Linked DNA regions of Homo sapiens: all the other regions are linked to region 4. The links come from fine-mapping of genetic effects on gene expression. A gene starts in region 4. Each other region holds a variant in brackets. All regions are shown on one strand. Distances are between the middles of the regions. Region 1 overlaps MYRFL (myelin regulatory factor like). Region 2 overlaps LOC105369823 (a long non-coding RNA gene). Region 3 overlaps MYRFL (myelin regulatory factor like). Region 4 holds the start of RAB3IP (RAB3A interacting protein).

What was found. PIP is the estimated chance that this variant, and not a neighbour inherited with it, causes the effect.
Region 1: its variant is the best candidate, but not a certain one, in a credible set for the expression of RAB3IP in whole blood (TOPMed, PIP 0.74).
Region 2: its variant is the best candidate, but not a certain one, in a credible set for the expression of RAB3IP in prefrontal cortex (CommonMind, PIP 0.82).
Region 3: its variant is the best candidate, but not a certain one, in a credible set for the expression of RAB3IP in esophagus muscle (GTEx, PIP 0.88).

What each region holds. Positions count from the first base shown.
Region 1 is chr12:69,832,867-69,837,941 of GRCh38, reverse strand. All of the region lies in intron 1 of MYRFL (myelin regulatory factor like), which reads right to left. Among named protein-coding and RNA genes, the nearest start is that of MYRFL, 10 kb to the right of the region's middle. The variant G/A (reference allele first, on the strand shown) is at 2,635.
Region 2 is chr12:69,637,708-69,642,782 of GRCh38, reverse strand. LOC105369823 (a long non-coding RNA gene) reads right to left here. Exons shown (of 5, transcript XR_007063358.1): 3 at 3,769-3,973. Among named protein-coding and RNA genes, the nearest start is that of LRRC10, 29 kb to the right of the region's middle. RefSeq lists an enhancer at 3,234-3,313. The variant G/AG (reference allele first, on the strand shown) is at 2,440.
Region 3 is chr12:69,846,731-69,851,805 of GRCh38, reverse strand. The region is part of intron 1 of MYRFL (myelin regulatory factor like); the gene reads right to left. Among named protein-coding and RNA genes, the nearest start is that of MYRFL, 24 kb to the right of the region's middle. The variant G/T (reference allele first, on the strand shown) is at 2,217.
Region 4 is chr12:69,735,958-69,741,032 of GRCh38, reverse strand. It overlaps RAB3IP (RAB3A interacting protein), which reads right to left and starts at 2,173. Exons shown (of 11, transcript NM_022456.5): 1 at 2,002-2,173. LOC101928002 (a long non-coding RNA gene) reads left to right here and starts at 2,483. Exons shown (of 4, transcript NR_110072.2): 1 at 2,483-2,755. RefSeq lists a silencer at 1,596-2,425.

The DNA of each region.
Region 1 (5,075 bases), 97 kb before region 4:
CCAGTCCCTAGGTGCAGAGGCTACAAGAATGAAGAAGGCATAGTTCCCTCCTTCCAGGTGTCCATAGGAGACAGACACGGAAAAAAGGCATTCATTACATACTTTGAAAGGTGAAGTGCAAAGTACTGTGGAAACACACTGGGAGCCCCTGAGGGAATGACGCCAAAGCCAGAATCTTGAGTGAACCAAGTTAACCAAGTAAACAAGGCAGGGAAGTGTGCTCCAGAAGGAGGAAGCCCCATGTGACCCAGAGGTAAGAAGAGCATGAGACTTAGAAAACTGCAAGTCAGGCAGGCCTGGGTTAAATTCTACTTTTGCTTAACTTCTCTGGGCCTACTTCCTCATCTGGATGAAGGAGATGGGTTTTACCACCTTACAGAGTGGCTTGCAGATGAAATGTGATAACATATATGAATCTACTACTGGTTCATGGCACACAGTAAGTGTGCATCCCTTTCCAATTCCTCTCCACTCCCCCGGAGACAGGGCTCAGAACAATGAACCAATTGTTGAACTCATGACAGATCAGTTACATCCAAGCAGGGGGTTAGGCAAAGTCCGAAAAGATGGAAACTTTGACTCTGTCCTGAAGAGGGAGTTGGGTAGCCAGTGGCCAGTTTGTGAGCAATTATACAATGGCTAGGGGTAAGTGAGTGAGAGGAGGATAGAAGGGAGGCAATTTTCCCAAATACTGACTATATTTATTGGCATCTCGTTCTAGAATACGGAAGCTAATGGGCCAATACCTGTCTTTCCCTGCTCTTCCCTCTGGGTAGGCGGAGTGGTGTGCAGATGAAAAAAGTGTTGGACTTGGAATGAAAACACAGGGTCTTGCCTGAAATTTACCAATCCGATTTTAGGCATATCTGTCAATTTGTTAAGGCTCAATTTTTTTTTTTAAATGTGTGAAGGACCAACAAGTTGATGGAAATGCAAGAGTTTGTAAAATGTCAAACTCTATAAGCAAGCATAACACAAATGGCAGAGTGAGAAAGAAACTTTGAAGTTGGGTTAAGAATGAACTGGCAAAATAAACACACGTTAATATTGGTGGCCGTCTATAGATTTTTGTTTTTTCTAACATTTTCACAAAAAGCCAGCAAAGGGGAGGACAGGTCCTGAGCATTGTTTCACAGACCTGACCTCCTCACCACCAGTAAAGGTTATTTCAGATTCTCACACAGAAACCTGCCTCTCTCAGGGGAAGGAAGCAAATTTTTGTTTGTCTTATCCTTATACGGATAAAAGGAGCTAATGGCAGTTCTTCAAATGCTTCTTAAGGAACAACACTTGAGATGGATGGATAATAGATTTTAAAGTGTCCCTCTTCTGATTGACTGGAATTAGCCTGCTCATGCTAACAGCTAGATCTTACTCTTATATTCACACAGAAAAATCGTTCCAAGGAATATTTACTCTTAGCAGAAGAGCTTTGACTAGCTGTTATCTTGTGGAATTATAATCATTTGTGTCATTTCTGCCTCTTCCTGCACATAGGACTGATGCGGGAGTGCTGGGTAGAGGAGGGTGTGTTCCCTAGTTAGGGCTCCACCTCCATGGACCTAGGTGAGGACAGGCATTTCTGCTGCATTTCCCATGACCACCCTGGCCTGCCACGTCCCCCATCCTGTGCCTATAAAAACCCGAGACCCCAGCAAGGCAGAGACAGAAGCAGCTGGAGGGCAAGAGGAGCACATTGGTGAAGGAACACACAGGCGGCTGGACGTCAAGAGGAATGGACCCACACCGGCATGCCGGCTAGCCCCTGACCGGCAGAAGCACACGGAATTTGGCCAGGGCAATCCGGGCCACTGAGTGGGAAAACCAACTCCCTTCTGGTTCCCCCACCTGCTGCGAGCTACTTCCAGTCAATAAAACCTTGCACTCATTCTCCAAGCCCACGTGTGATCCGATTCTTCCGGTACACCAAGGCAAGAACCCAGGATAAAGAAAGCCCTCTTGTCCTTGCGACAAGGTAGAGGGTCTAGTTGAGGTGGTTAACACAAGCCTATAGACGGCAAAACTAAAAGAGCACACTGTAACACACATCCACTGGGGCTTTAGGAGCTGTAAGCATTCACCTCTAGACACTGCCATGGTGTTGGAGCCCCACAGCCTGCCCGTCTGTATGCTCTCCTAGAGGTTTGAGCAGCAGGGCACTGAAGAAGCGAGCCACTGCCCCTGTCACACACCCTGTGAGGGGGACAAGGGAACCTCTTCCATGTCAGGAACTTTCATGAGACTTATCAATAGATTTGTTTCAAAGCAACAAGCTTCCCTAATCCAACAATGGAAGAAAAAAAGAGGATCATTGTCTTCTCTCTTTCCATCTACGGAATCCACTACATATACAGAACACAGATAGGAACAAGGGCAGTAAAATTCCAAAGATGTCTAATCTGCTTTTGCACTGTTTTAATACAGATGAATAAAAAAATAGCTATGCAAATTAAGAAACTGTTTCCCATGCATGCTTTTATGAGCGGTTAAATATATGAGTTGTACTGGAGTTCTTTATGGGATGTTAAATAGTAATATATCCTTCTGGATTATATGGACTTTCAAACCTTTACTTCTGGTTTTTCATGAACAAAAACAGCAGAAGTAGTTAAAAACTTCTATCCCTTTTAAGGA[G/A]GTAGAGAATTTAGTTCAGATCTGAGCCAGCTTCCCCAAACCCTGCCAAGGCATGGCTGAATGACCTACTTGAGGTCAGTGATTAACAAGGTCAGCAGATAGCATTTTTCTGTATGAATTTTATACCACCCCGGCCTTTCCTGAAAGACAGTTGATAGATACAAGAACCGGTTCTTTTAAAATGAGAGCATCACAGAACATAGGTAAACTGAAAAAAGTTATCTCCTTAAAATGAATTTGCAGTCTCTCAACTTCAGAACTTCTTACAGATTTACTATAAAATTAGAACAAAATCCTTCAGACGATCTAAGAACAGGACAATAATAACAATATATTTCTTTCAGCTTTGAGTCTAACCCCAAACAAAGAATGCCAACTAAATCTTGGAAATATATTAAGTTTCACTGTTCTGTGTTTTCTGAAAAATGTAGATTTCAAGACCAACATGGAAAAGCTGAACCTTTTGCAATAAAAGGAAATACTCAGTACTTTGTCCTTTGTTGCTTGGCAACTAAGGGCTATAAATGGATTTTATGATTATAAATTCTCTGGAATTAATGTGAACATGTAAAACTTTTAATAACTCCCTGGAGACAGGAGTGTTTCTTTGAAAAAGAAATGTATGGATCTATGTATGTAGCTGTACTTGTTCTTGTTTCACAATAAATAAAACAAGCAATTTGGTTCCTTCACACTTGCAAATACTATAATAAAAACCACTACCATTTATTCTGTCATTTTAACGTTTTATCATTAATCTTCACAACCGTAAGAGGGTAGGTGTTATTATCCCCATTTGACAGATGGAGAACATTGAAACTTTAAAAGGTCATACAACTAAGATGCAAAGAAACCAGGATTCAAAGCCAAGTGTGCCTGAAACAAGGCATACACCATTAGCCTGCATACCACAGAGATTCCTAGGAAGCATATTTCTCAGCTCTTAATAGTTGAGCTATTGGTAGCTTTAACCCTACGAGAATGACACTAATTCTCAGCATCAAGTCACATGATGCTCTCTTCAGAACACATTACTTCTTATTGCCATATATGACATTTGTTTCTTATATTGTTAATACCAGGGTATCAACCACTGGGGTCCCATCTTGCTGGACTTTTTGTCCTGAGTCAGATTACCCAAAATTACAAGATTAAGAGTTAATATTTATACTGCACTTCTGAGCATAGCCTGCTGCCTAACTTTCCTCTGTATATTTTTGTTATGCACAGAGCAGGACTAAAGAACAGTGATGGTGTTCTGATATCTTTGTACTCTTATTAGTGGACTTACATTATGAGTTTCTGGAGCTGCCTGCTCAATGAACATAAACCATTACCTTTTTACCACTAACACCTCATCTTATTGTGCTAGAGCTGGGATTTTCTAAGGAATAATGGCAGATGGCAGTAAAGTGCCAACTGCTAGCAGTCCGGAATAATTTTACATGCAAATTGTACCGAAAAAAAAAAAAAAAAAAAGCAAGCCCTATCTTCTGCTTCACAGGAGACATGAGTTCTACAACTATCTCTATAGATGTTCCCTGTGACCTGATTAGAAGACAATGTGCACAGTGGATAGGGACACAAGCCTTCAGAGCCAGACAGACTTCTGTCCAAATCTAAGCACTTCACATACCTAATAGCTGTGCTACCTTGGGCAAAGTACATACCTTCTCTGAATCTGTTTCCTCCTCTCTAAAATACTGACAACATTATCATTCATTGTGTTGTGCAAATTAAGAATTAATATAAAGTCTTAGTACAATATCCAACATAAAGTAAAGCATTCATTAAATGGCAGTGGTTTTCCTTCATTAAATGATAGTGGTTTTCTTACTGATCACAGGCTGCTGTCTTCGACCCACTGACTGGACATCCTTCCCCACTGCACGAAATCCTTTTTTCAAGGTCACATACAACCTTCTTTTCCCCAGATTCTATAGGCAATTGTCTTGTATTTCAGAAACATTTGAAACGTTTAACCATATTCTTCTTGAAACACTTTCTTTCCTAGTTTAACAACCACACTCTTCTGGTTTCCCTCCTACCTCACTAAACATTCCTTTACTAGTTACTTTCACTTGGATCCCAAAATGTGATCTGGGACCCTTTTCTCTATCTGTACTCTTCTTGGTGATCTCACTTAGTCTCAGGGGCTTTAAACTGATGACTCTTTAAGCTGATGATTCCCAAATTGACAACAGCAGCTCTAATCCTTCCTTGGGTTTCAAATTCAATAATCCAACTGCCTCCTCATCGCTTCCACTTGGTTGTCTAAAAGAGATCTCAAACGTAAAATGTCCCAAATGAATTCTTAATTACACACACACACACACACACACACACACACACACACACACACAAGCCTGTTCCTCAGTCTTCGACATCTAAGTACATTGTACTACCATCCATGAATTGTTGACACCAACACCTAGGCATCA
Region 2 (5,075 bases), 98 kb after region 4:
TTGGCAGCAGGTCTGGCAGAGATGTCAGATCCCAGACAACTCAGGAACAGCATGTCATTGCCATGCCATTCCCACTCAGGAAACTCGAGCCTCTTCATTCAGGGTTGTATAGCCACAGCTGCTGTTCACGGTACCTGGCAGGCTGGTTGGCTCTTGCCACAGGCGGGGCAGCCAGGAGCCCTCCTGCTATTTCCATCCTTCAGCCTCAGGAGCCATCAGTCACTCCCAGGTCAGCTCCACAGCAATGGGCATGGAGCGCTGAGCAACAGAGAGCACTCCACAGAGAGAGGAGATGAAAAGATTTGGAATGGGTTTTTTTGGGGGGGATGGGGGTACAGGGGTTTGAGATGGAGTCTCACTCTGTCACCCAGGCTGGTGTTCAGTGGCACAATCTCATCACACTGCAACCTCTGCCTCCTGGGTTCAAGTGATTCTCGTGCCTCGGCCTTCTGAGTCGCTGGGATTACAAGCATGCCCCACCATACCCGGCTAATTTTTGTATTTTTAGTAGAGACGGAGTTTCACCATGCTGGCCAGGCCACTCCTGGCCTCAAGTGATCTGCCCACCTTGGCCTCCCAAAGTGCTGGGATTACAGGCGTGCACCACTGTGCCCAGCCTGGGATATGGAATGTGTTAAAGCCAGCTTTACTCTCCTAAGGACAAAGGCAAGCCAGTAAGTGGAGGAAGAAACAGCTAAGCCAGAGTTGGTAAATCCTGCTGGTGGGAGAGATGACTAAGGACAAGATCAAGCCCCCTCACTGCAGGGGAAATAAAACTTCTAAAAGTTATAAGTCCAAAAGTTGATAAAAGACTGGAGTTAGGCAAAACGTCAAATATAAGAGGCAAGAATATGCCCATGTTCTTGAGTTCTTTCCGTGATGGGCACTGGCTTTGTGTTTGGCCAACATAAAGTTTAGAGCCACTTTCCTCTGAATATTTCAAGTGATACTCAGAGAGCCTGTGGAAGGAGCACTGAGGCGTTTGAGAGCAAAGAGCAGAAAGCCAGCGTCAGAGTGGAAACAACCGTGTCCTTCAGCTGTTCCATCAAGGTCGATGGGGTATGGCCCCCCAGCCACCAGTGCAGTTCTCTGCAGCTGCCTCACCTCCAGTACCCAAGGCTAAGGGAGTCGATGTCTCTCCCACACACAGTTTTTGCAAATCCCACTCTGTTGTTACCCCACTGAAACATGCAGCGTAGGGTGGGGCACAGTGGCTCACACCTGTAATCCCAACATTAAGAGGCCAAGGCAAGAGGATTGCTTGAGGCCAGGAGTTTGAGACCCACCTGGGCAACATAGTAAGACCCCATCTCCACACACACAAAAAAAAACTTAAAAATTAACCAGGCATGCTGGCATGTGCCTATAGTCCCAGCTACTCAGAAAGCTAAGACAGGAGGATGGCCTGAGCCTAGGGGGTCAAGGCGGCAGTGAGCTATGATCACGCCACTGTGCTTCAGCCTGGGTGATGAAGTGAGACTGTCTCCAAAAAACAAAACAAAACAAAAACATGCAGTAAAAATCAGATATAAGTATGTGTCCTAGGATTCAGAGCTGTTCAGAGTTGGTGGTGACATCTAAAACTGATACACACAATCCCCCTCCCTCAGGGCCTCCTAGAACCTAAAAGAGCAGATACAGGGTGGCATGGGCATCACTGCCGCCCTGCATCCATAACACCTGCTGGCTGGGTACCAGCCAGGTATCTTCTCTACGTATTTTTCAGCAGACAATGTGTACTTTCTATGGTCTGTGGTCCACAGTATACCAGGGGAGTAAGTTCTTCTTGTTTTTTGTTTGTTTGTTTGTTTTTCCTAGAGATGGATCTTGATGGATCTTGCTATGCTGCCCAGGCTGGCCCTGAGCTCCTGGACTCAAGTGATCCTCCCACCTCAGCCTCTTGAGTAGCTGGGACTACTGCGATATGCCACTGTGCCTGGTTTATGAGCTCTGATTTTACATTCCACATATAAAACATATTTTTATATATGTTTTTATATATGTTTTATATATACATTCCACATAAAAAACATATTACATATTCCACATATAAAACCAAATTTCAAACATGGCCTGGTCAACATTTGTGAAGAAGTGAGGTCTTTGAACATAAAAGTAAGAATATGAGCTTTGGGCCGGGTATGGTGGCTCACGCCTGTAATCCCAACACTTTGGGAGGCCAAGGTGGGCAGATCACCTGAGGTCAGGAGTTGGAGAGCAGCCTGGCCAACATGACAAAACCCCATCTCTACTAAAAATACCAAAAAAATTAGCCAGGCTTGGTGGCAGGTGCCTGTAATCCCAGCTACTCAGGAAGCTGAGGCAGAAGAATCACTTGAACCCAGGCGGCAGAGGTTACAGTAAGCTAAGATTGCACCATGGCACTCCAGCCTGGGTGACAGAGCGAGATTCTCTCTCTCAAAAAAAAAAAAAAAAAAA[G/AG]TGGAATATGAGCTTTGGACTTAGATTTCATGGATTCAAATCTTGGATAGACCACTTTTGGTGACAAGTTACTTAACCTTTCTGTGACTTGGTTTTCTCACAAATGAAATGGAGATAATAGTAATACCTATTTTTGTGGGTATTAATAAACTCATATTACACAGCTAGCCATATAGCATACACAATACATACTTGCCATCATGTTTATATCATCATATTATTAAATAGTATGGTGATTAAGAGCTGAGGCACTGCTCTAGTCGGGCTCAAACACTTACTAGCTGTAAGACCTTGAGCAAGCTACCGAACATCCCTTAACCTCAATTTCATCAACTACAAAATTGTGTTAATGCCAGAACCTTCCTCGTCAGGTTGTTTGAAAAATTAAATGAAATTGTGAAGATAAAGCTATTAATATGGGGTCTGATGCAAAGTTATGACTCAATAATTATTAACTATTTTTAATATTAGTTAATAAAATGGGCCAGACTTTGGAGCAAAACATTTGGGATTTTTTTTCCTCTCCTTCCCCCTCCTCAGATTTCATAATTTTTAATGTTTCTTCCCTGAAAGTATATAAGTGACTATTTTGCGAAGTCAAATATCTATGGACATTATTTCTTAAATCTCCTACCTTGGACCGATTTGATAAAAACAGCGTATAACAAACTACACGTGGCAGAAGCAAAGGCCAAGGGAGGAACACCAGCGAGGGTTTCTCCACGCTGCCTCCAGGTGGCAGCACTTAGCATGGCGAGCCTCAAAAGGCCCAGATGAGAGCCTCCGCTTCAATCCATCTGAAACCAAGGGTGGAAGCTATGTTCATCCCTGAGGGCGACTGAAGATTCTCAGATGCACTTGTCATTGCCTCTGGGGAAGGAGGCTTGGGACATGGATGGACAGGGCTGGGGCGATCAGGGCTGCCCCTAACGTATGCAGAGCCCCTGTGTGTGTAAATAATTTGAGTCATTCCAAATCAGTATGTTGAAAAAAACAAAACACCGCACCAGACCCAGGAGTGACCCATGCATCAGTCAGGTTACTCCTGGAAGCAGGGCCTGCAGGAAACCCCACACGCCTTAGAGCGCCTTGTCCAGATGGCATTGCCAGCCCCGCCAGTCCCAGGCACCAGGGAGGGACTTGAATATGAGAAACTTTAGAGGAAGATGCTTCAAAGCACAGAGGGGCTTTTGAGTAGAAACAGCCTTTCTTATGGGCGGGGGGTTCTGCATCCCTGAGTCCAAGATAATACACAAGCACACACACTTTAATTATTTCTTTAAGCTCTTGTTAATGTTTAAAATCTCCCCTTCTAAATGGATTGCTTACCAAAGACAGAATCCAAGAAATTGGCAGCTGAGGGTCTTATCAGGAGGGGGATATGGGCCTGGCACGGTGGCTCACGTCTGTAATCCCAGCACTTTGGGAGGCCGAGGCAGGTGGATCACCTGAGGTCAGGAGTTCGAGACCAGCCTGACCAACATGGAGAATCTCTTCAAATCAGTGGGGAATGTGGAATGGAGAGCCTCTTCATCTGCAAGACATCAAGGAATAGACCTCAGAGGCTGCTGATACCCACTGGCTCCCGGTTGGTTGGAGTAAATGCATTCACAGTAGGTCTTCATGTCACTGACCTTCTGTTCTTAGAACCTTGAGGTGAGAAGGAAATTTTTGTGTCACCTGGTTCAGTGCCTTGTTGTGTGGTAGAATTCTCTCTACAATCATCCTGCCAAGATTCATCCAGCTGGAATCCCTTTAGTGAAAGACAATTCACCCTTCCTGAGACAACACACTGCATGCTGGGACATTACACTCTTTAGAGGCCTTCTCCATGTTGAGTGAAAAGCTGTCCCCTGACAGCCAGATCCCACTGGTTCTGATTCTGCCTGTGGGTCCACACCTAAGTAGTCCATCCTCCTGCCTGCTCAGGACCTGCCTCAAACATCTGAAGAGTATGATGCTTCTATACATGCCCTCAACACACACACACACACACGCGTGCACACACACACACCGTTTCTTGAGACCAAACCTTGCCAAACCAAGAATCAAATTGTTCTTTACATCTGATGATCTTGAGTCCTTCCACTGTCCTGATCTGTCTCTGCTGGCGGTGTCATAAATGGTCCTACTCAAATGTGCACCCAGAAGCAAGCACAGTACTCCCCATATTTGATGGGTGGGAGGTGGAATTTTTTTTTTAACCAGTGCAAAGTAGAGCAGCAAAATCAGCCTCCTTGTTAGGAACACTCAGCTTCTAACCATGTGGCCCACGATGCTGTACCTCCCAGAACCTAGACCACTGTCTGGCACTGGGTAGACACTCAAGAAGTATTTGTTTAATATACATGAATGATATTTTGAAAGTGTAAGTTCATTTTTGTTTTACCTTTTTGTAGTAGCAGTTAGTGATTGTTGTTGCCAATAGTCAGGAGGAACTTTGGGATTTCATATCTGACGTGACTCTGCAGGCTGGGCTATTGGCTACCTGTAGCAAAGTCTACTAATTGTCTCCCAGTATCCATTCTATGGATCACAAGTGACTACATTTGGGCAATAGAATGTGAGCAAAGCATGACAGGTGCAATTTGCAGATCATCTCCTGGAAGGAGAAGCTGTGGCGCTCCCTTTCTGCA
Region 3 (5,075 bases), 110 kb before region 4:
GTGTCTGTAGTCCCAGATTCTCAGGAGGCTAAGGTGGGTGGTTCTTCTGAGCCCGGGAGGTTGAGGCTACAGTGAGCCATGATCGCACCACTGCACTTCAGCCTAGGCAACAAAGCTAGACCTTGTCTCAAAATAAAATATTATGTAAGTGATATTATGTCCTTCTCAGTGCCTTACATCAGAAGGATAATAATGTTCTGTTATGACTGATGTTAATGTTGATTCCTTGGTTAAAGTACTGTCTGCCAGCTTTCCTCACTGTAAAAGCTCTCCTTTTATAATTTGTGGGGAGATACTTTGAGATTTTGCATACATACTGTTTCTCATCAAATTTTTACCCAATAGTTTTAGCATGTTTTGATGTTCATAAGTATTTTAATACAAAAAATGAAAAACAAACTGAAATATGTTCTGTTTTGGTTTAAGCCTCGGTATTCAGCAAAAATTATTTCTTTCAACTTTGATTTTAGAAATAAAGGGTGCATGTGCAAGTTTGTTCCATAAGTATATTGCATGATGCTGAGATTTAAAGTATAGATCCCATCATCCAGGTAATAAGCATTTATAGACAATTTTTTCCAGTCCTGAATCTAATCCAGAATAACATAATGCATTGGGTTATCATGTCTTTTTAGATTTTTCAAAAAGTACAGGCTAGTTGTTTATAGGATGTCCCTCAGTTTTAGTTTGCCTCCTATTATCTTATGGTTAAATTCAAATTGTATATGTTTGACAAGAATATTACATAAGTAAGATCCATTCCATGAAATATTATGCAGCCATTGTAATAAATTTTACAATGTCTCAAGAGAAAAAAGTGGGTTGCAAAATCTTGTATGCGGTGAATTTCTTTCCCAATATAAAGGCAACAGATAGACAATTCCAAAATGAAAAAGTTGAGGGTATAAGACTCCTTTAAGTCCCTCTTGAAAGTAGCTCCTTAACAATAAAATTCAGCCAATCAAGAATGAATCACAAGAAAAAAAACAAAGAATACAGAAACTGAGGTGAAAAACAACCATGGATGAAGAGCGAATTCATGTAAATATAGGATTTAGACTGAAATTCTAAGGGGATTTTGGCTACAGATCAAAATGGAAAAGTAATAAACCCTGACAAAGAAAAAATAATATAATCAACAAAAATTGGAAGGCAGGGAGATGGGAGGTGGGAAGAGATGTAATACTAATTATCTCACCACTCATATCTCAGAATTCGTCTTTACTACCTAAACCTGTACCATTTGGTTAAAAAAACTTCTTCAACTTTTTAGTCATTTTCTAAATCCCCTTTCCTTAATCTTGGAAGAATCCTTTAGAACTGATAGTTTTAACAATAAATAATTACTTTTTTCAGAATTAAAATTCTGTAATTCCTTTAGTTTTCCTTCAAGTTATTTTTATTCTGTTAAATTCAAGTAAAATTAATATTTTATATTAAATTTAATATTTTATTAAAATAGTGCATATAAGATCATTTCTTATAATGATAATTTCTATCCATCTATCTACCTACTGATTGTATTAGTCTGTTTTCATGCTACAGATAAAGACACACCCAAGACTGGGCAATTTACAAAACGAAGAGGTTTATTGGACTTACAATTCCACATAGATAGGGAGGTCTCACAATCATGGTGGAAGGTGAAAGGCACATTTCACATGGTGTCAGACAAGACAAGAGAGCTTGTGCAGGGAAACTCCCATTTTTAAAATCATGAGGTCTCATGAAATTCATTCACTATCACAAGAACAGCACAGGAAAGACCTCCCCCTATGATTCAATCATCTCCCACCAGGTCCCTCCCACAACACGTGGGAATTATGGGAGCTACAAGATGAGATTTGGGTGGGGACACAGAGCCAAACCACATCACCCATCCATCCACCCACATATCCTTCTATCTGTAGATATTCATGGAGAGATGATGAAATAACATCCCACCACCATTAACACTGGTTAGATTATAGGATTGAGGGCAATTGATCATTATTTTCAAGTCCTAATTTTAAACTTTGGAAAAATATTTTATACAACTTTGGGTAAAATGATTTTCTAAAACAATTAAAAAATCAAATTGCCAAAATCAACTCAAAAATAAAGAGAAAGTCTGAAATGACAAATAGCCCTGGAATAAACAGAGAAAAATTTCACCATAACCATCACCCTACCCCTGCATAAACAAGCAAGGTTCCAATGACATCAAGGATCATGCT[G/T]TTAAAACTTTAACAATATAACTCTTCTACCATTTTCACAATTGTGAAACAGAGAAAGAATAAAAGTATCCAAAGTATTTTCATGAAGCTAGCATAAAATGAATGCCAAAATCTGATAGAGATGAAATGCATAAAGAAAACCATAGACTAATATAATTTGTGAATGGTATACTCAAATCCTAAATAAAATGCTGTCAAATGAAATTCAACATTAAAAGAAAAATTTATCATCAAGAAACACAAAGATGACTCAATACTAGAATTCATATATCAAAGGTAAAATAGTATTTGACCTTCTTAATGCCAAAAGGCATTCAACATCAATTCCAATGAATACATCCTTAAGATTATATATATTCATATGCACATATATATTATGTTTATGATAGAAAACTAACATCAAATAAGACCCAGTGTTGGCTGGGCGCAATGGCTCGCGCCTGTAATTCCAGCACTTTGGGAGGCTGAGATGGGCAGATCACTTAAGCCCAGGAGTTTGAAACCAGCCTGGCAAACATGGTGAAACCCTGTCTCTACTAAAAATACAAAAATTAGCTGGGTGTGGTGCCATGCACCTGTGGTCCCAGCTACTTGGGAGGCTGAGGCATGAAAATCACTTGAACCCGGGAGGTAGAGGTTGCAGTGAGCCGAGATCACAGCACTGCACTCCAGCCTGGGTGACAGAGCAAGATCTGTCTCAATAATCAATAACAAAAACAAAAACAAATAAGAGCCAGTGTCATGTTTAATGATTTAGAAAATTAGAACTACTGTATTTTCATTAATGTTAGAAATAAAATAAGTATTTTAGTTACCATGTTATTACACAATACACTGCTAAAGGCACTAGCATCCCACTTAATCAAGAAAATGAAGAGAGTTATGAATGTCAGAAAGGTGGAAATAATTTGCATATGACATATATTTTAAACTTATAAAATCAAAGAATACCAACTAAAACTTGTTTAAAATAATAGGCAACTTCAATAAGGAGACCACCACAAAAGTAATGTATAAAAAATAGATTTCTATATTCAAACAACAGCTACTGAGAAAATGTAATGCAGAAAGATCCATTTATAATAGGAATATAATTGTCAGGAATAAAATTAAATCAAAAGAAGAAACTCTAAAATTCTGATAGAATGAAGAGAAGATGAATAAATTAAGAGCATATTTTGTTTGGATAAAAAAGGCAATAGTATAAAGATGTAAATACTCCTAAATTAATTTATAAATTTAATATATCTACAATCAAAAATTTCTTAAGGAAACAAACTGATTCTAAAGTTTATCTCAAAGAATGCTAATGTGAAAATACCCATGATAATAAAAAACATGTGAGTAAAAAAGGGATATTTACCAACAAGATGTACAAAAGTAATATAAATATTGTGTTGCAACAATAAACAGACCAATATTTTGAACATAATAAAGTCCAGAAATAAACCCAAACATACTTATGAGAATTTAGTTTGTGATAGATGTATCATTTTATGTCCATGAAAAAAAGCTATGTTCTATACTAGAGTCTCACCTCTACACCAAAATGAATTCCTAGATGTATGGAGGATTTAGATAAACCATAATATTACTAGAAGAAAACAGGCACATATGTCTGATGTCTGTATATTTTGGAAAGAGAAAAAGACTCTTAAACCATAATAAGAATACCAAAAAATATACAGAAAAAAAGTCTATAAATTTGACTACATAAAAATTGATTTTTTCAGACTACATGAAAAGCAAGGTTGAAAGCAAATGCTGCTTCTAAGGTTTTGGACTAATAATTCTCAAATCAAAGCTTCTTAATGATTGCCTATATCTTACTAGAAAAGGTTCATGAGGGCAAAAATCATAGTTGTCTTATTCATCACTGTAACCTCATAGTACTAAAGCTTTTTTCTTTTTCTTTTTTTAAAGAGAGAGAGAGAAGTCATTTGAAGAGCGAGGTAAATATTTTCTAGGACTCCAGAGCCAGCTAATGAGGAAGTATATGTGTCTGGATAACAAATGCATAGAAAAGCCACAGAGATGGAATCCAAAATGTTAATGGTGATTATCTTCAGTGATAGTGCTTTGTTTTGTTTTCTCTTCTTTATACTTGTTTTATTCTTTAAATGTATTACTTTTGTAATCATAAAGTTATAAAAGAAGTTCATCTCTGAGTAAGAATAAAATGAACTTTTTCTTTGAAAAAAACAATATTTGTTGAATGAATGAATGAATGTCTTCACTAGCAAGGACTGGATTGACAATCCTTAGTAAAGAGGTGGCATAATTGGGGCATATGCTCTCTGTTCTATATGCCCTCCTTCACCCCATCCTTTCTGCAGTTTCTGAGCAGAAGAATACATTAGCACCCAACAACAAAAGGGCCTTGAAATGTGAGTTTCCTTCAGAGCCCTCTGACTAAGCCTTTGTCTTACTGCAGCAGTTTGAGTGGCACAAGAACCTCCCACCCCACCAGACAATTACCAAAGAACTGTAGCTCCTGATTGCCACTAGTTATGAACTCAAACAAATTTACAAGAAAAAAACAAACAACCCCATCAAAAAGTGGGCAAAGGATATGAACAGACACTTCTCAAAAGAAGACATTTATGCAGCCAAAAAACACATGAAAAAATGCTCATCATCACTGGCCATCAGAGAAATGCAAATCAAAACCACAATGAGATACCATCTCACACCAGTTAGAATGGTGATCATTAAAAAGTCAGGAAACAACAGGTGCTGGAGAGGATGTGGAGAAATAGGAACACTTTTACACTGTTGGTGGGACTGTAAACTAGTTCAACCCTTGTGGAAGTCAGTGTGGCGATTCCTCAGGGATCTAGAACTAGAAATACCATTTGA
Region 4 (5,075 bases):
TATTTCCACTGACAAATGGAGAAAATAAGCTCAAACAGGTTAAATGTTTTACTCAAGGTTTTATGCACAGTAAGTGATGGAGCTGAACATTAAATAATTTTTCATTCAGCCAGCTCACTAATTTGTTCACTGACTCCTGTTGAGGAGGAAAAAAGTATAGTAACTACTATAATGCATATAAAACTACTGTAATCTACAAAGTATTTTTTCGTGCCATATTTAAAAAATGAGGGGGTGAAACATTTCTAAGAACCTTTCCATTTTAAAAATTATTTGTAGAGGATGTGTGTGTTGGGGGAGGATGAGAGTTTAGACAAAATCAAAGGTAAAGAATATTAAAGGAAACATATGGATAACTGCACTAATTCAAAAAGTACAATAGGATCTATTCAGAAATCCCACAAAGCAGCTAAACATTAAATGGCCATCCTGGTGAAAGATTACAAGTATTCAGTACCACAGATGAGTTGTTTACCAAACACAGAAGGAAGAGTTGTATCAAACACTTTGGTTCACAAAGGTATACATTAATATGTAACATTACTGTAATGGAAAAAAATGCAATGGCTTTTCATTTAATAGTTAAAAAATGGACTACTTAATTGTATAACTGTTTATTTCTATAAATTCCACAAGGGCTTTAGGATTAGATCACATAAGCCGCATCTGGAATACACTGTCTGTCCAAACATGAAAAGTCCTATCAAAATGCACAGTACTAGTAAATAAATAACAAATGATAACAGAACAAGGCCCCATAAAACTGGTGAAATATTTAACAGTATCAAATATTTACTACGATTGGTCTACAACCCTATTCTGCCTCTTTTCTCCTTGATTTGTCATTCAGCACTGGAAGAAAAAAAAACCTTCATGAACAACAAAATGAGAAAAAGGATAATGAACAAGAACTGGGTCTTTCAACTGATTTACAATGGAACAGTTTTGTTGTAATCCTCTTATGGGCCCCTCCTCCAATTATGCAATCATTCCACTGCAAGAGATTACAAGGCTTTTAACCCGACACTGAACGGAAGGAGTTGGGGTGAAACAGGAGAGTGTATAACAGGTAGCCTCCGAACAGGCAACATTTCCATGAAACTAAATTGCCTCTCAGTAATCAGTACTAACTAACTCAGCGCTCGTGTCTTTCAAGACCTTACCCTTTCATCTTTTTTAATCCCATAACAACCGGCAACTCTTCACATGCTGCGACTTCCACCCAGCATCATCACTTCTGGAGCCAGTAAGCTCGCGCTTCCTGGGCGGTCGGGGCGAGTTGTCAACGCTGGGAGGGCAGAGCCATGCAATCCCACCCGTGCAGTTCGTCTCAACTCCCCCGAACACAAGTCTGGCGGCACGGAGCTGCCTACTTGGGCGCGACTCCGGGCGCCTGCCCGGAATTTCCCACCAGGTTTCACCGAAACCTCCCGAGGGTGACCTCTACGCCTCAGCACGGTGCCTCGCGCGTAGTTTCCTAAGACTGGGACACGAAACCACCCCAGGTCCACAGCCCTGCCGCGCGGCGTCCGGTGTTGTGAGCTGCTTCCGACTTGTTCGGGAACTCTCTCTTCATCCTCTTCGCGACCGCGGCCCTCCGCTCCCGGCCGCGCCCGCCCGCCGCCAGGTAACCCGCTGGACTCGGGCTCCCTGCCCCGGGCGCGCGGGACCGCGCAGTTAATGTGTAACGCGCCCGTGCCCGGGGGAGGAGCCGCCGCCCGACGCCCACCAGCAGCCCAGGGGGCGGCCGGCTGACCCGGGTCGCCAAAGTCCCCCCCACACGCCGCCCCCAAGGGCCCGGAGCCCAAGTGCCCAGGCGGAGAGCGAGCTCACCGGGCCTGGGCATCCCCCCGAACCCCCGCGTGCCGCGCCCTGCACGGCGCCAGCACCTGCACCTGCCGCGGCCGCCCCTCCTGGCCGACTCGCCAGAGGCGGGCGCGCGGGCGCCGAGGGGGGCGGTGCTCTACGCTCCGGGCCTCTCCCTCCCGCGGCCGCACTCACCTGAAGAACCCACCGCGGCCGCTGCCGGCGCTCAGGGGCGCTCACAGAGCCGCAGAGAGCGCGTCCCGAAGCAGCGAGAAACGGAGGAGGACGGCGAGCCCTTTCCGCTACACTCCACGGCGGCGGGCTCACTACGCCGGCAGCCGCCGAGGGAACGCGGGACTGCGCCTGCGCCGGAAGCGGGGCCGGGGGCCGGGAGCCGGGAGCGGCCGGTCCTCACGGAGGGAGGGCGGGGTAGGGGGGTGTGGCCGGCAGGGGCGGGGCGAGCCCGGCATGGGGCCTGGGGGCGGACGCGCTTCCGCGCCCCCTGGCGCCAGGCGGGGCTCGTCGCAGGTGTCACGGCCCTGGCCCGAGGTTCCTCCGCGGGCGGTTTCCCTGGGAACCAGCGCGAGCCGGAGCTGCGCTCTGTTTCGTCGGGCCCGCGCTCTGTTTCGTCGGGCCCGCGCTCTGTTTCGCCGGGCCCGAGAGGCGGCCTCAGGTTAACTTCAAGCATGTTGGGCTCTCCAGGAGGGAGAAGAGGCACCTTTGCCGTGGGTTGAGGACTCCTAGAACCAACCTGAGACTCCGCGGCCATATACACCTTACGACGTGTGTGTGTGTGGCGGGAGATGGGAGGGGAGGAATCCTGTAGAACCCAGATCCCATCATTCCAGCAACTGCCAGAGCGTTCGAGAATGTCATGTCTGTACCTGTCTTCTCTCATCTTTTGTGCCAACTGTTTTATCAAACTTCTACCCCACTTTAGGTCTTCCAGGTAGGAAAAATACAGAAAGAGCCAAGATCCCAAAAATCAAAAAAAAATAATAATAATAGAGGTAGTCATAGTATGTGTCTCTATGTTTAGCAAAAGAGAAACGTGCATTTGTGTGATACACTTATTGAATAGGACCATCATTCTGGGTATTAATCTCATCTATTAGAGGCAGTAAAGAAAAGTAGACTATATGTATGGTTGTTGGAGTCAGAATTACTGGGCTTGAGCCTGCCACCTGCTAGCTGAGTGACCTTAGGCAAATGAATCTCTCTAGCCCCAATTTTCTCATCAGTGAATGAGTATACAGAACCTGCCTCACTGAGTCATTAAGAGTTTAAATGGCTTAATTCATGTAAACACTTTGCGTACTTCATGACACAGAGTGCCTAATAAATATTAGCTATTGTTATTATACCATTATAACTATTATCATGCATCTGTAATCCAGAAACCTAGAAAGCCAGTGTTTCTTATTTTATACCCCATCGCCAATATATCACCAAGTCTTATTCATCCTAATTTCTAAATAATTCTTAAATCTATCTTATCTGATATTCATTGCCACTAGAAATGACCTTTCTCATTAATGGATTCCTATTCTCCCTTACACCTCATAGCTGGTCATTTATTCATCAGACATTTTATTGCACTCCATCTGTGTGCCTCCTGTTAGACATAGGGACAGAGAAACCATTACAAAGTCCCCACCATCCACGGACTCAAACATATATAGGGAGACAAGTATGTCAATAGTAGCTACGTGAAATGAATAAATTAAATATACAGCAAACCACTTAGGCTCCCCAGTCTTGCCGTACTCACATACAACCCTGTATTTCCATATGCTGTTTATTTTTATGTCTTGATCTCCTACCTTTTCCTTGCCTTGCTAATTATTTGTTATTCATTATTTAGCCTAGACATCAATTCCACTGTGAACCCTTCCCTATTGTTGGCCACTCAGCCCTATCCCAGCCACTCCAGTATGGGCTAAGTGCCCCTACCAGGGCTTCCATAACACCGTATCTCTTTGTAACACTTATCACATAGAGTTATAATTGTATCTGTATTTCTCCATTTTCCTGGACTGCGAGCTTCTTGAGAACAGGCACAAGGTCTGACATGCAGTAGGACTGACTCAGTAAATGCAGAATGAGTGAATGGCATGCATGCAGAGTGCAGTCTTGGTATGTGAATGTTTAGAGGACAAGTCCTATGATATATTCTACATAAGACCTAAGACATCATGATCTATAGGAAATAGTAAGCAGTAACCATATATGCCTGAGTCCTGCGTTGGTCCATTTACAAATCACCTACCATCCATGAGGCTTTTTGAAATATACTGAAAGATGTTCCTCTTGAATACTTAACCTGTTAGCGCTGTTTGAGAAGAGTGATATAGATTGTTACCTATAATAATACTTCAGTGTTCTTGCAGCACAGAGACCAAGATACATTACAGAATATTAGACACTCAGAATCTCAGCCTACAAAGTATGTAAAGGGCTGTGAGCATCTTAAGTTTGATAGCTTACCCATATATAAAAAGGACAGCTATTTCACAAAATTTAAAAATGTGAAAGATTTGGATGGGCACGGTGGCTCATGCCTGTAATCCCAGCACTTTGGGAAGCCAAGGTGGGCAGATCCTTGAGGTAAGGAGTTCGAGACCAGCCTGGCCAACGTGGTGAATCCCCATCTCTACCAAAAAAAAAAAAAAAAATCAGCTGTGCATGGTGGCACACACCTGTAGTCCCAGCTACTTGGAAGGCTGAGGTGGGAGAATCACTTGAACCCGGGAGGCGGAGGCTGCAGTGAGCCGAAATCACGCCACTGCACTCCAGCCTGGGCGACAGAGTGACACCCTGTCTCAAAAGAACAAAACAAAAGGCCGCACGCGGTGGCTCACACCTGTAATCACAGCACTTTGGGAGGCTGAGGTGGGCAGATCACCTGAGGTCAGGAGTTCAAGACTAGTCTGGCCAACATGGTGAAACCCCATTTCTACCAAAAACATAAAAAATTAGTCGGGCATGGTGGCTGGCACCTGTAATCCCAGCTACTCGGGAGGCTGAGGCAGGAGAATCACTTGAACCTTGAATCACTTGAACTCGGGAGGCAGAGGTTGCAGTGAGCCGATCGCGCCATTGCACTCCAGCCTGGGTGACAAGAGTGAGACTCCATCTCAAAAAAAAAAAAAAAAGAGTGAAAGATTTTATAGTGTGCTCAAGGTTGCCTTTTTCTCTTTATTTTTTTCTCTTTATTTTTTAAAAATGTAAATTATACAATTAGTGTCAAATATAACGTATAAAATAAT